Linked DNA regions of Homo sapiens. The protein of the gene in region 2 purifies or fractionates together with the protein of the main gene of each other region. This does not show direct contact. Each region holds a gene or a part of one and is shown on either strand. Other genes may lie near its edges.

What was found.
Region 1: the proteins of B3GALT5 (region 2) and CSGALNACT2 purify together in Homo sapiens (affinity purification with mass spectrometry; one large-scale study listed by BioGRID and IntAct). This does not show direct contact.
Region 3: the proteins of B3GALT5 (region 2) and PODXL2 purify together in Homo sapiens (affinity purification with mass spectrometry; one large-scale study listed by BioGRID and IntAct). This does not show direct contact.

What each region holds. Positions count from the first base shown.
Region 1 is NC_000010.11:43,179,226-43,184,454, reverse strand, and holds part of CSGALNACT2 (chondroitin sulfate N-acetylgalactosaminyltransferase 2), read right to left. Parts: intron 1,206-5,229; coding exon 913-1,205; 3' UTR 1-912. UniProt on the Homo sapiens protein: Transfers 1,4-N-acetylgalactosamine (GalNAc) from UDP-GalNAc to the non-reducing end of glucuronic acid (GlcUA). Required for addition of the first GalNAc to the core tetrasaccharide linker and for elongation of chondroitin chains.
Region 2 is NC_000021.9:39,667,483-39,672,711, reverse strand, and holds part of B3GALT5 (beta-1,3-galactosyltransferase 5), read right to left. Parts: 3' UTR 1-5,229. UniProt on the Homo sapiens protein: Catalyzes the transfer of Gal to GlcNAc-based acceptors with a preference for the core3 O-linked glycan GlcNAc(beta1,3)GalNAc structure. Can use glycolipid LC3Cer as an efficient acceptor.
Region 3 is NC_000003.12:127,634,966-127,640,194, forward strand, and holds part of PODXL2 (podocalyxin-like protein 2 precursor), read left to right. Parts: intron 1-4,279; coding exon 4,280-4,558; intron 4,559-5,229. UniProt on the Homo sapiens protein: Acts as a ligand for vascular selectins. Mediates rapid rolling of leukocytes over vascular surfaces through high affinity divalent cation-dependent interactions with E-, P- and L-selectins.

The DNA.
Region 1 (5,229 bases), on a different chromosome or scaffold from region 2:
GGATCCATGCCAAATTAGAAAATTGAAAGCAAAAACAAACAAAACCATGCTATGCTCATCTATTCTGAACCACCATGGGAAGACCCTGATAGAGCTGGCTCAAATAAACTAATGTTCCCAGACAGAGCTAGGATCCTGTATTCCAACATAATTAAATGCTCTGTTAAAAATGTTTCCGTGTTCTTTTCTGTTTGTTCAAAATAGTTTACAGCAACTGACTACTAATCCTAATCCTGAACATGATAATGTAATAACATATTTTTAATCAAGCCATAGATTCTAACCTATTTTCTACTATTACCCATTTGCTTAAAAACAGACTTTCAGGGGTGTAAGCAACAGTAAGTTAAGGAGTTTTTAGTTCTACCTTTCTCTTGATTGATTGATTGGGGATTTCAGATGTGTCAATTAATTATCCTCTATTTCAGTGGAAAAGGATTCTTCAAGCTATCAAGTCAAGGAGGCTGACTCAGGGGCGGGCAGGTGAAGATACCTATCCACATACTATGCTCATAACGCTCCATCTCCTCTGTAAGAATGTGCTGCTCTCCACCCAACAGTGGCCCAGCACATTCCATCCGCTCCACCTAGATGCAATCAGGACACCATGCAATCCCACACACAATCAGAACATGGGCACCAGGTAGAACTAACTCAAAACAACTTTTGGGACAAATATGAGATTTCAATTTGTCAATTATTCCATAGTGCAGTATTCTCACAAAACAGAGATTTTGTGTTGAAACATTTGTTTTTTCTTCTCACATCAAGTTGAATTGCTAAAGTAATGTCAGAAAGAACATGAAAAATAAACATGTCTTCTCCAAAAGAGGCACTGCATCTGGAAGTAGAAGTAAGGCTAAATAAATAGTGCTGTTTTGTGGTTCATACAGTAACGCATTAATTATGATTTCAACCAACAGCTTCACTGTTTGTCCTGTATGCCTGTTTATGAAGATGCGTCTCTATTTCCTCCCTGAAGACCAGCATTCCCAGGTGGGAGTGAGAGGCCTCATTCATGGCTTTAGACTGGATGCACATGCGGTACTGCTCGGGGGTCAGCTCATCAGCACAGCGCTTTTCATGCCAGAGGTGGAAAAGACCAGGAACCGGAGTCCGAATCACAATGAGGTCACCATGTAAGTATTTTCGATAAAGATGAACATCTTCTCCACCCCAACCTTTCACTTCCATGTCAAATCCACCTGTAAGATCAAAATTGACACTATAAATAACTGCCTATTATTAGCCAGAGCACAGGGATATATATAAAATTTTAAATGTTCTGCTTCAAAAGGGATGGGATGGTTCAGCAAAAAGGTAGCACGAGACACCTGGCATGGAGGAGTGACTCCCAGTCACCGGAAGTCCAGTTTTGAGCTGACACTTGGACTCAAGGAGCTCAAGGTTGGTTGTTGACAGTATCAAAATGGGGTTAAATATTTAAGAACACTTTGTAAATTTCAAAGTCCTGTAGAAAATCTACAAAAAGTCAAATAAAGGAGAAGAAAATACAAGTCACCTATAATCTCACCACCATTAACTTTTTATGTTTTCTTTTTTTTTTTGTTTTTTTTTTTGAGACAGGGTCTCACTCTGTCACCCAGGCTGGAGTGCAGTGGTGTGATCATGGCTCACTGCAGCATCGACCTCCGTGGCTCAGGCGATCCTCCCATCTCAGCCCCGAGTAGCTGGGACCACAGGCGCATGTCACCATACTCAGCTTTTTTTTTTTTTTTGGTGGAGATGGGGTATCACCATGTTGCCCAGGCTGGTCTCGAACTTTGGGTTCAAGTGTTCCGCCCACTTGGCTTCCCAAAGTGCTGGATTGCAGGCATTAGCCACTGCGACCAGCCACATTTTCTGTCCTTTGAGACACACGCTTTTCTGGGCTATAGAAAAACTCCCCAGAGTGGAAAAAGAAGAAAGGGCCAAGCTGGAGATATAAATTTGAGAATGGGTCCATAGATTATTTAAAGCTACAGGAATGAATGAAATTACTGAAGGAATTTGGAAGGAAAACAGGGCCTAGGTCTAAACACTAAGAAATGCCAATTTCTAGAGGTTAAATAGAGGTAAAGAAAGTTAAGTCAGGAAATGAGATTGAGAAGTGGCCCCAGGTGAGGGAGAAAATTCTGGAAAAGGTGCCATTGTAGTAGCCACGTGAAGAAAGTGTCTTGAGGAAGAAGTTGTCAAGTGTGTGCTATTCAGTGAAGAATTTAAGAAGAACTGACTGGACCTGGCAGCATAAATGTTACTTATAAACTTCCCCAGAACAATTCTGATAGAGTGATGGGGCAGAAGGCTAACTGGAGTGGGCTGCTGCAGGAAGTCAGGGACCCCGAATGGAGGGACTGGCTGAAGCCATGGCAGAAGAACATAAATTGTGAAGATTTCATGGACATTTATTAGTTCCCCAAATTAATACTTTTATAATTTCTTACTCCTGTCTTTACTGCAATCTCTGAACATAAATTGTGAAGATTTCATGGACATTTATCACTTCCCCAATCAATACCCTTGTGATTGCCTGTCTTTACTTTAATCTCTTAATCCCGTCATCTTCGTAAGCTTGAACTCCTGACCTCAGATGATCCACTCACTTCGGCCTCCCAAAGTGCTGGGATTACAGGCGTGAGCCACCGTGCCTGGCCTGTCAAATAATTTTTATTTTTCAGAGATGTGTTCTCACTCTGTTGCCCAGGCTGGAGTGCAGAGGTGCAATCATAGCTCACTGCAGCCTCCATCTCCTGGGCTCAAGTGATCCTTCTGCCTTAGCCTCCTTAGTAAGTGGGACCACAAGTTCGAGCCACCATGCCCGGCTCCTGTCAAATAATTCTATCCCACTTAATTTCACATTAACAGGATGGACAATAATCTGGGGATCTCTGAAAAGTATTAAACAATCAGAGCTTTACTAAATGCTATGTCTGATACATATCAGCTTTTCTTCCTTGTAGATATAAGCTCTTAGAATATTAGAGATGGTACATATACTTAAAACAAATGGGGCATTCTCAGTTTCTGGTCTGGCATGCCTGGAGCTAGAAGTCATCACTCCATCCTAACAAGTCAAAAGCTGAACACTGAAAAAGCAACAACTCCTCTTAGGTCTCTCACAGAGAAGTGAGGTCACAGGGTAAACCACTGCCCTCAAAACTGGTGAGACAGATAGGCAGATACAAAGAATTCCAACTTACTGGAGCAGAAATCTCTGTGGGGACCAGTACCCAGGTAGGAAAACCCTAACTGTAATCGACAAATTGCTGGAGGCTCAGGGGAGGTAAGTCTGAGTGTTAAAAACTCCAGGGGGACCTGGTCATATTGGGACCCCCATACTCATGTGAGTTTTACCTCTAGGAGCTCTATTAGGTCCTCAGTGGTGAAGATCAGAGAAAAATCTCTTAATGCGTCCAGCAGTGGGGAAGGGGAAAAGGTAATCATTTTAAAGTATGCCACAGCATGTTGTCATTATTAACAAAGCCTGTCCTTAGGAGAAGTTATTTAACCAGAGCCTAACCTGCTGGGGTTTTATCAGTGCCTAACTGACTTGGAGGAAGAAATCTACCCAACTAGAGCCCCTTCTAGTCATCCTGTCCAGGAGAGGAGGGGAGACTGAGAAGCATGTGTGAAATTCAGAGTCTGGGATACAGGATCACTAAGAGATTGAGACTTACTTATGGGACTACAGAACACTTCCGCTCCCTCCACACTTCACCACCACATCATCAAAGGCCTATTTATTGCAGTTCCTTTTACGCAGTATATCAAGTCCAACTTTCAACAGAAAACATGACAAGGTATACTAAAAGTTAAGAAAAACACAGTATGAACAGACAGAGCATGTACCAGATCCAGATTCAGATACAGCAGGGATGTTGGAATTATCAGGCTGGGAATTTAAAACAACTATGTATAATACTCTAAGGGCTCTAATGGAAAGAGCAGATAACACACAAGATGCGGAACATAAGCAGTGAGATGGATCTAAGGAATTTAAAAAAATGCTAGAGATCAAAAACACTGCGAAATAAATGAATGCCTTAGATGGGTTCATTAGTAGACCGGACTTAGCTTAAGAAACAATCTCTGAGCTTGAGGATATGACAATAAAAATTTCCAAAACAGAAAATCAAAGAAAAAAAAAGACTGAAAATAAAATGAACAAAATATCTAAGAACGGTGGGACAACTACAAAAGATGTAACATATGTATAATGGGAATACCAGGAAGAAAGGAAACAAGGGAACAGAAGCTCCAAATAAAGAGTCTAAGTTCTAAACAGGTGCAGCTCTTTTTCACCCAGCCCACAGCAACAGGGTGGAGGCTCCACTTCCAGGTGTGGCCAGCTGAGAATACTGGGGGTCCTCCTGCCCCTACCCAGTGTCCTGCTCATAGGGCAGAGGTGGTCACTCTGCTTAATAAGTGTGTCACTGTCCCCATCCTCAGGGCAAAACCTCATGGATTTTTTCCCCCGGGGGAGAGGAAGTCCATAAGAACAAAGTGCTCCAAAGTTCTTCCCTAAGGAACTGACTTTATTTAAAATAGAATGTAGAGAAGTTCAGAGTTTAGAGAAGTTCCAGCCTCTTGAAAATAATGGAGATTTTGGTAGTAAGCAATTAAGAGGAGGCTGGTAACTCCAGGAGGGCAACAGCTAAACTGTAGGCCAGCTAATTTACTAGAGAGAACCACAGAGAGAGATAGTAAGAATATACCTCCTGGGGTCTGAACAAATCTCAAAGACTTGCTGCAAAAACTATCCCTGCAAAAGGGCCCAATTTAGTAGGGACAGATTATGGAGCAATTTATGCCCCAGAGCATTGTCAAAAACAAGACAGCAATTAGTGAACAGTCAGTGGAGTCTAATAGGAGTGATACCAATGGAGGCATGGAAAGAGATAAAGAGAGCCCTGCTAAATCCAATGCCATCCTAGGATAACTGCACAGGCCCTGAGGAGCAACAGCAGAGGCTTCATATTGCCAAAAGGTCGGGGAAGGAGGAAGAAATAATTTGTTAAAATAGTCCAGCCATGTCAATAAATAAATAAACAAGGAAAAAAAAAAACCAAGCCGTGGTGGTAGAGGGAAATCAGTATCCAGAGTTGCCACAGTGTATTACCTAAAATGTCTAGTTTTCGAAAAAGAAATAATGAGGAATGCAAAGAAACAAGAAGATGTGACATACGCTTAAAAAAAAAAAAAAAACCGGCAAGCAACAAAAACTGCCTG
Region 2 (5,229 bases):
TAGAAAACATCAATGTAAAAACAAAAGGATTGTCCGATTCAGACCATTACCTTGCCAATTTTTCGGGAAGAGTGAATTATCACATCAATCGACAACCTAAAACTCACCTAGTTAAGTGCATTATTTTCATAATTTAATTTTCATTAAAAATAAATATGATTATTAACCAATAATAAGGACATATACCCATTTCCAAAATACAATGACATAAGAGTCTAGCAGATCCCCCTAATATACAAGGAAATGACAGTTTCAAATAGCATTCAGTGACATGTAAATTTAATTTCGTGTCTTTTAGGAAAAGCAAAATTTGACTGCGAAGTCTCCTCTGGTTGCATTAAGTAATTTCCAGTCATGGTAGATTTTAGTGATGTCTTATTTGACCAGGTAAAACAAGTCATCTATTTCCCATCTGATACTCTCTGGAGCCGAATTGAACCAAGTATCACTATGTCTTTGGCTTACCTCTTCGGGGACCCAGGGACTGGACCCCTGAGCCAACAGACCTCACGCTGGCTTCGCTGGCAGGAGGGTCTGCGCCTGGCTGTGTCCACGCCACACTGGCCAACTTAACTCTGCGCTTCTTTGACCAGTGAATGGAGGTAGAATAGATGATGTAAAGCAGTATGACACAAAATGTTGCATTTGGCTATGGAGTTCGTTTTTCTGCTCATATTTAAAAGTGATTGTGTCTGATAAGTAGGAAGATCATTTTTTAAATTAATTAAAAACTAATTTTTTGTTTGTCAGTCTTCCGATTGGCAGGTGCCAGGATGCACTCCAACTTCCTCCTGTTGGCGTGGCTCTTGCCCTGTGCAGAGGGTGGACAGGTTCCCTTCAGCTTCAAGGCCAATCTGAGAGCAAGAGGTCCGTTCCTAGCACTCAGATTTCAACAGCAGGAAAACAGACAGAAATTCATGCCTCTACATTCCCAGGGGCCACACACTGCAAATCCTTCTCTCTACATTCCCAACAGAGAATGTAAGCACCTTTCATATCCCAGAGACATAGTTAAGAGTTTACTTCAAATACACCTCAGCCCATGATAAAGTTCCTAGTGTTCACATACAGATTTTGGGGTCACGTAGAACGAAACAGAAATAAAAACAAGTCCCAACAATAATGAATAAAAGAGGCTTCAGGAACTGATGTTTGAAGGAACCTTACAGCTCACTCCCAGGCCACCATTCTTTCTTGTGATGGGAGTTGCCTTGTGGGTGCCTGAATACCACCTTTGAGAGATCCCCTGAGAACCCAATAGATAATTATCAAGTATCTACTCTCCAGCAGGCACCATGCCAGAGACCCAAACAGAGAGAGGAATCAGGCTGGAAGAACTTTAAAATCTGCCAGGAGCGACACAGCCATGGAAATTGCTATAATGTCCATTCTGATATAACAAACGCTGAAAATTAATTAATTAAAAAAATGTTATGAGAAAGCAAATAATTCCTGCTACAGTTTGAATGTGTCCCCCAAAGTGCATGTGTAAGGAAACTTAATCCCCAGTGCAACAGCGTTGAGAGGTGGGACCTTTTAAGAGGTGACTGGGTCAGGAGGGTTCTGCTGTCATGAATGAATTAATGTTATTATAAGAGGAGGGTCAGTTATTGCCAAGAGTGATTTTATCAAAGCAAGTTTTGCTCTTTTGCCCACAATGACACAGCATGAAGGCCCTCACCAGAGGCCAGTGCCAAGCTCTTGGACTTCCTAGCCTCTAGAACCATGAGCCAGATTAATTTCTATTGTCTATAAATCGCCCAGTCTGTGGTATTCTGTTACAGCAACACAAAACAAACTAAGACACTTCCAAATGGAGGACATGGAGAAAATGTAAACATTGCCTCATCTGTTTTTAAAATGAGGGTGCATGGCAGCTGTTAGATTAAATAATTAACAAGCCTGATTTAATATATCACAGAGCCATAGACTCTTGGCACGGAGGGCCCATGAGAGTCACCAAAGCCTGTTTTTTTTTTTCTTTTGGAACTGTTTATCAAGGATTCTAAATAGTATTGCCTCCTCAGTTCTTGCCTGTAAAAAAAACACGTAGATACTCAATAGGCTGGTTGATCTGTTTCACTTTATTTCACTCTTTCTAAATGTTCTGCCTGAAAGTTGGTGTCACATCCTTCAGAGATGTCTGGAACTGTGGACCACGCCTGCAGCTGGCTTCCACCTTACTGAACATGGGTGTGTGGCACATAGCTGTCATATAACAAATGTGTGACTGATTGTGCAAAGGTGAAAACGAGTGAGGCCCTCAACTCCACCCTGCCACCCCAACAGCTGAGGAGGGCAGTGGGGGTGCCTGCTGTTTTACATCCCAGGTAATTAAACCGCCCCTTGCTCTTCCACTGCCCTTCATGGACACGGGTGGGGCAGTTAACATTGTTCAGAACCAGCTTCCACTGAGCATGGTATCTCTAATTAGAGCCTCAGATCTGTCTGTCTGTCTCTCTCTCTCTCATAGATACACACACACACACACACACACACAGTCTGAGTGTGGCGCCCCCGGGCTTGTTTTGCAAGGGCATTAGATAGGGAGACAGGGAAAGTGGGCTGGACTGAAGAGTTTATTTTCTGAAGCCAGACATTTGTTTGGGCTGCCATTGGACACTTGAGTAACCTCAAGAGAGGGCTGGCCAGGGCAGGACAGGTCAGGGGATCCAGCTAAACGGGAGGTCCTTGGGAATGACACAGATAACTAAGTGCCGAATCCCAGGAGGTCAAACAGGCCCAGGAAGGGGCAGACTGAAACTCATATCAACACTTGGAAAAAAAAAAGTGACAGAAGACAGGAAAAGGGGTCAGGTGGCACACTCCTTGGGCAGGGCTGGTCCCAAGCTTCCTATGAAAGCAGATACATCGGAGGACTCACCACTGTGCCAAGTGGAGAAAAGCAAGGCTGCTCGCGGGAGGCAGCATTTGGAGGCCGAGGGCCTGTGTCTCCACCACGTCTGAGCCCCCGGGGAAGTCACTGAGTCACCTGCCCCTCAGTTTCCTCCTCTTAAATCCAGGGGCATAATTATAAGAATGGTGCCCTCCAGAGGCTGCTGTGGGGTTTCAGTGAAACAGCAGGTATGGATGGACATGGCTTACGATGCCCACAGAGAAGGCACTGGAACGCTTCTTTATTCAGCTGTCAAGGGATCAGGTGCCCCTGATAATCTTCTCAGCATTGTGTATTTACCCAGTGAAAGCTCTGTATGCAAAACCCACGGCCTCGAACCTCAGCTTGACCCTCATTCAGGATGCCCGGTCAAAGCACTGAGCACTCAACAGATGAATAAATAAACGAATGAATGTCTGACATGGGATTTCTGATGCCAGCTTTTAATCCTGGATGTGCCACTCGCTGAAGGACCTGGCAAAGTCACTCCATTTTTCTGAGCTTTGGCTTTCCTAACTGTAAAAGGTTTTATCTTAAAAAAAAAAATACTGTAGATAATTTCTAAGGCATCTTCCAGCTCCAACTTCTTTTACCTCATTCAGATTTTCACATATTCTGAATTAAGAGGGTCAAGAACACAGTGCTCTGATTGTGAAGAATGTCACGAACAGAAGAACTTCTCCAAGAGTTCCAGGAAAGATTCAAATGAAGAAAAAGAACAAGAGCTGAAACAAAGCCCTACAGACTCAATCTGAAGAGTTTTTGATTTGCACAGAGATCACCAGACACTGACAGGTACACTGATAGATAGTGCTGTATACACCACCATAGAATCCACCAAAATTCACAGCCCAAACACTGACTATAATCATAAGCACCTGCATTTACTGAGCACCTACCATGGGATGTTGAGCAGTTTATACTCATCCTCTCATTTAACCCACATGATCATCCCATGAGGCGGGAACTACTATGGTCCCATTCTTCAGATAACAAAACGGAGACAATGAGAAGATAAGTAACTTGCCACTCAAGGGACTTGGCGAGGAAGGTAAAATTCAAACCCAGGCAGCCTGACTCCAGAGCGCAGACCCTGCCCCAGCGAACAGAGCCCGGGGGTGAAGGGTATGCCCAAGGTCACACTGGAGGGCTGAGGCCGAGTTCTAAATGTACCACAGCTGGGTGCCATGCAAGCTTGTCCCTCCCGCATGCATATCTCACTCGCATTGATTCAGAGCAGGAGGGGGAAAAAATGCCTAACACTGAGCACGTGTGAGGATGATGTCATGGGAGGAGGAGGCTACAACTTCCATTGAGACAACCATTTCACACCTGGGCACTCCACACCACGCCATCTTAACAAGACCTCCTTCTTCATATCGTTACTCTGCAAATCACACACAGACCTTGCCCCCCAAATCAGGGATATTTGGAATATATATCCTGAGTTTGCAGAGGCTAGCTTAGAGCCTGGGTCTGCAATGGTGGTCTTGGAGTCTCAGGTCACAGAGGCTGGCCTGGTACCAAGATCTACTAGGATAAGCCTAGATCCTGGGTCTACTTGAGCAAGTTGTAACCTGGGTCCTCTGCAGCCTGGGGCCATGGAGACCTCTCTGGTACTTGGGGTCAGCCCGGTGCTGGGGATAACATGGAGCCTTGGTCTCTGGATCTATTTACCCCAAATCAGGAAATAACCAAGCAAACCCATTGCTGCTAAGCAACCACTGCAGGCCATTAGATACAACATCGCGATAGCAGCCCATGCATTCAGCCTGCACCCAGTGCTAGGCACAGCCGTGCCAAGAACTCAATGTGAATTATCTTAATTTCCACACCTCTGACAACCTTCTGAGGTGAACACTATTATCATCCCATTTTATAGAGATGCAGAGACTGAGGTGCAGAGAGAATGACCACCTGGGGCCACAGCTAGCAAATTGCAGAGCCAGGGCTGGAACCCGGAGGCGGAGGCTTGAGCGGAGATGTAAATGGAATGGGGCCTCCGTAAGTGGGTCGCCCAGCCCTGGAAGCAAGGTCTCCTCTTCCCCAGTTAGTATCCTCCCATGGGCCCTTTTCCCCAGCTTCCCCACCAGGTAGACAGTAACCTGGTGTCCCAGTTACCTCCTTACCGGGTGGGTCTCTATTTTCCATGGCTCCTGCCACCATGGAAGCTGGAGGCTCTGCAAGGCTGTACGTCAGTACAGTTTCTACAGGTGCACAGGGCTAGCTGTGCCCTAAAGAGCGGACGGAATCCACATTCTGCACTTCTAGCTGCACAACCTTGGGGTGTGCACACACACACACAATGCTTCCTTGTTCTTACCATTCCCAGA
Region 3 (5,229 bases), on a different chromosome or scaffold from region 2:
AGGACTGTAATTCTAATGGAGGCGTCTCTCATGTCTACACATCTATGTTTCTGTATCGTCTCTGCTGTTTTGCTTTATCGTGAAGTGTGGGGCATTTCGGCCATGTGCCCCCCTGAGTGGCATGGTTGTCTACCCTAGAGAAAGGGAAACTGAACACATGTTCCTGAGATCCCGGTGTTGTTATTTCCTCCAGCCTCCTTTCTCCTTCACAGTGTACTGAGCACAGTTAGTACAGTGCCATGAGCAGTTCTGTTAGTAGCTACCTTTGAGATCTCTCTCCCTGCCCTACTAACCCTGTGGCTCAAACAGAGTTATATGGTCACTGTTACACTATTCCATAATGATTTGTTTTCTTGCTGGTCTCTGTAGTAGAAACTGACCCTTTTGGGGCAGGGACCCTATCTTTCTTATTTCTGTACCAACATAGCCTTGGATCATGCCTAGTCCAAATAAGCATTTAATAAAGGCTTTTTGGTTGAAGAATGAATGAATGGATGGATGAATGAATGGAATTTAACCATTCAAACACTACTCTGATCCAAAAGGAGAACTTGATTTATAATTTGTCTTAATGTATCATTTGGCTATTTCTGTGTAATAAATCACCCCAAAATTTAGTGGTTTCAGATTCTCAGTTCTTAAGATCTGATCCCTGGACAGAAGCATCACCTGGGAACTTGCTAGAAATGCAAATTGTTGGGCCCCGTCACAGACCAGCTGGATTCAGAACTCTAGGGTGGGCTTAACAGTCTCTGTTTTAACAAGCCCTCATGGTGATTCCATGCTGGTTCAAGTTTGAAAGCACTGGATTAAAACGGTAGCCATTTATTTAGCTCATGATTCTGTAGTTTGGCAATTTAGGCTGCAGTCAGCTGGGTGGTTCTGGTCTCAGCTGAACTCCTTCAAGTTTGTCATCAGCTGTTTATCACCTTTGCTGGTCTTGTCTGGCTCTCTCACTTTGGGACTTCAGCTAGGACACTGAGCTGATCTGGCTCTCTTCTGCATGGGCTCCTGTTTTCCTGCAGGCTAGCCTTGAGCAGAATCCTGAGAGAATGGAAGCGTGCAAGGTATCTTGATGCCTAGCCTTGGAAATGGCACATCATCACTTCTGCATTGTCTTGTGTAGCAACTCACAAAGGTAGCTCAGATTCAAGGAGTGGAGAATTAGATTTCATCTCTTGATGGGAGGAGCTACAAAGTCTCATTGCAAAGATGTGTGTTATTAATTGGGAGTCATTGGATAACCCCTCTCAGGAAGAACCTTAAGAAGGTACTGTTTTGGGGTAGGACAGGGCACTCTGTTTCTTTCCCATCTACCTAGTAGGGGATAGATACTGCTTTCTTCTATAATATTCGGGCTAGGAAAAAATCCAAGAGTAGCTTAGGGTCCCCCCGTGATGTGAAGGGGAATTAGAGTGGAAGAGGTCATGGGAAAGTCTTGAGCTAGAGAGAGTACAAGTCCTTAATTCATCCTCTCCCAGGAACAAAGGGGAACTTCAAGGGGAGTGGACCCCAAATTGATTGTCTTGGCTTTCTCTGCCTTTTAAATACCTTTGGCTCAAAGAAACCACAAAATATGAGATGGCTGTTTCTCTCTTTGAGTCAGGGATTCAGACACAGGCTCTGGGAACATGACTTCAGCTTCGTGGAGCCAGGCCCTGCCTGGAAGCAGAATCTTTGTCCGTGGACATGGTGCCTAGGACAGCAGAAGACATTCCGGATGGGGTGTGATAGCTTCCTGGTTTGGACTTGGCAGAAGGCAATCCCCTGTGAGCAGTCCTCAGGAGCACTGGCAACACAGCAGTGCCATTGGCTCCCACCTGCCCAGGGTCACAGCTTGCCCACCCTTTAGGTATTTTTTTATTTTTATTTTTTTGAGACAGAGTCTCACTCTGTCGCCCAGGCTGGAGTGCAATGGCACCATCTTGGTTCACTGCAATCTCTGCCTCCCGGGTTCAAGCAATTCTCCTGCCTTAGCCTACCAAGTAGCTGGAGACTACATGCGTGTGCCACCATGCCCAGCTAGTTTTTGTGTTTTAGGAGAGACTAGTTTTGCCACATTGGCCAGGCCTGTCTCGACCTCTTGACCTCAAGTGATCCGCCCGCCTCGGCCTCCCAAAGTGCTGGGATTTACAGGTGTGAGCCACCACACCCAGCCCCATCCTCTAGTTATGATGATACTTTCTAAAGCTGAGAGTTGGGCCTGTGAATTATCTTATTGAGAGACAGAGCTTCACGGGATCTTAGAGGTTGGCACAGACGTTTACTAGCCCTGGTCAGATGCTAAGGCTCTGATGCCTCCTTAGCCCCGGCGTTGGCTTTGAGGCCATGTAGAATCACTCTGATATTCTTATTCACATCAACCTTTTGTTTTAATGTATTTGAAGATACCATGGTCTCTTTTAAATATTTTTTTCCCCGGGCCATGAACTTCACAGGTCTCTGTTTTTTATATAGGATAATAACACAATATTTGTAGAATAGTTTGGTTTGTAAAGCTCTTTGTAGAGCAGCTTTCACACATGGCTCACCAATTACCTCATTTGGTGCCCCTCACACTGGAGGCATGGTAGGAATTGGTGTCCTTATTACACAGAGGAGGAGAGCAAGGCTGGTGGTGGTGAAGTCACTCAGCCAGAGAAGCCAGAGTGTAACCTATTTCCTGGTACCAGGCTTTCTCTCCTGTTATATAGAACATCTTCCTGTCTCTGACCTCAGGGCGTCTCTCTTACCCTGGAGTCTCTACTTCCCATCCCCCATCCACACAACCCAGAATACACCCCTGTGGCTGGATGTGGCATTATTGGCTGTGAGTTGTCTGGCTGCTGCACAGTGTGCACAGACTCCCTCATACGGAGACTCACAGGACAGTCTGAAATGCTCATTTTTTTCAGTGGCCAGTCACAGTATTGGCACGTATCAAGCTTAGGGCCTGCTCAGCAAAGCACATGGCACCAATAATATTAGCCCTATTTTTATTATAAGCATCACTAAAAATTGCCATGTACTGTAGTCAAGTCAGGTCACAGTACACATCTGGTGTAGAGCAAGAGGAAGACTGTGAAATTCCCTCTTCCCTAGATCCTTAAGTGTTAGTCTTGGAAAAGAATTCAGAGGTCATTTCATTTAGCTTCCTTGTCTATCTGGTGAGGAGACTGAGACCCAGAGGTCTTGAGCAGCTTTCCAGGAGCCTCACAGCAAGTTAGTAATTTGTGTGGTTAGGTCATTAAGTTAGAGGTTAAGTTGTGAAACTGGCAAATAGGGCTATATTCCTGTCCTTAAAGAATGAGAGTGAAAGAAGAGGAAAAAGGCCTCCTTTAATTTGTTTTCCTGTCCATTTATTTGCTTGTTTTGGTAAATTAGGAGAGAGAGAGAATCCAAGATTCTAAACAAATATGTCAAATTACCAGCACTGGGTTGAGTTTGAACTGTGACCTCACGTGGTTTTTTAAAAGACTACGTTCAGAGGCTGGGCTCAGTGGCGCACGCCTGTAATGCCAGCACTTTGGGAGGCCTAGGAGGGCAGATCACTTGAGGTCACGAGTTCAAAACCAGCCTGACCAACATGGCGAAACCCTGTCTGTACTAAAAATACAAAAATTAGCCAGGCGTGGTGGTGGGCACCTGTAATGCCAGCTACTTGGGGGGCTGAGGCAGGAGAATCACTTGAACCTGGGAGGCGGAGATTGCAGTGAGCCAAGATTGCACCACTGTACTCCAGCCTGGGCGACAGAGCAAGACTCCATCTCAAAAAAAATAAAAAATAAAAAAACTAAAGACTATGTTCAGGATACTGTATTGCTGAAATACAAATGATATTCATAATGCAGTTTTGGAGAAATTTCAGCCAAGGATGGAAGCCTGGGGAACACTGTGTTCGTCCAATCATACTGCTAGGTCCTTAAAAGCATGGGCCCTGTCTTCACTTCAGTTTGTAGCTCCAACACCCAGTACAATTGCCAACAGAGAGAGGGTACTCAGGAGGCATTTTCTGAGTGACCACATGCGCAGTGGAACACTGACTCAGTGATTCCTCTCTCTCCCCTGCCTGTCTCCATCTGTCTCCCCTTGCCCCTGCCATAGGGAAGTCTAAGCAATTTGGCCTTTTTGAAATGAAAATAGTGTCTCAGAATCCCCGCAAAGCCTCTGGGTTTTCAGGAGTGTCCACTGAAGTCCCCCCTTCCCCAGGACCTTTGTCATTTGAGACATGCTCTAACCTGGCACCAGTCTTGTGTCTTCTCTAGCCTCCCCTGACTGTCTGGCTTTTATGTCTGCACAGGAGCGTTCCTGGGTGCCTGTGTGGCTGGGTCTGATGAGCCTGGCCCAGAGGGCCTCACCTCCACCTCCCTGCTAGACCTCCTGCTGCCCACTGGCTTGGAGCCACTGGACTCAGAGGAGCCTAGTGAGACCATGGGCCTGGGAGCTGGGCTGGGAGCCCCTGGCTCAGGCTTCCCCAGCGAAGAGAATGAAGAGTCTCGGATTCTGCAGCCACCACAGTACTTCTGGGAAGAGGAGGAAGAGCTGAATGACTCAAGTCTGGACCTGGGACCCACTGCAGGTAGCTCTTCTTACCTACAGAGCATGTGTTGAGTGCCAGCCAAGTGTCTAGGCAAAACACCAGGTGACCATTTCCTTGCCAGAAGCATCTCTTCTCTCTCCCTACAGTTTTTACCATGCTGCTGCTGTTTACCTGCACATCAGAGCAAAGGCTCTGGGACCCTGAATGTCTCACAGGCCCAGGAGGCCCTTTCTCTTTAATACTAACCACTGTTTAGGGAGCCTTTATTCTGTGCTCATTTAATTCAATCTGATGCTTATAACCTGAGAGATAAGTAATATGACCCCCCTTGTAGACAAGAAAACACTGAGACTGAGAGGTTAAAAGCTGGCCTGAGGTCAAACAGCAGCTCAGATGCTCAGTCATGATTCAGACCTATGGCTTTCCAAGCCCTGGGGCTCATTGTTTTGTTTTTCCCTACTGCTCTATGCTGTCTCTGTTGAAGATTGCCACAAGGTCAGCTGATCCATGTTTCCTTGAGTCTATCCGACCAGCAATTGAGGCATTCTAACCGCCCTTCCCTCAGTCATGCACCAGAGCTAGAGCTGGTGTTTGGATCTACAGAGCCCAGCTGGTGAACATTTGGGTCCCGAAGAAAGCCCGAGGCCTAGGGCTCCAGGTTTGAATGCCCACCGCCATGAGCTGACATTGATACAGATGCAGGCATGGCC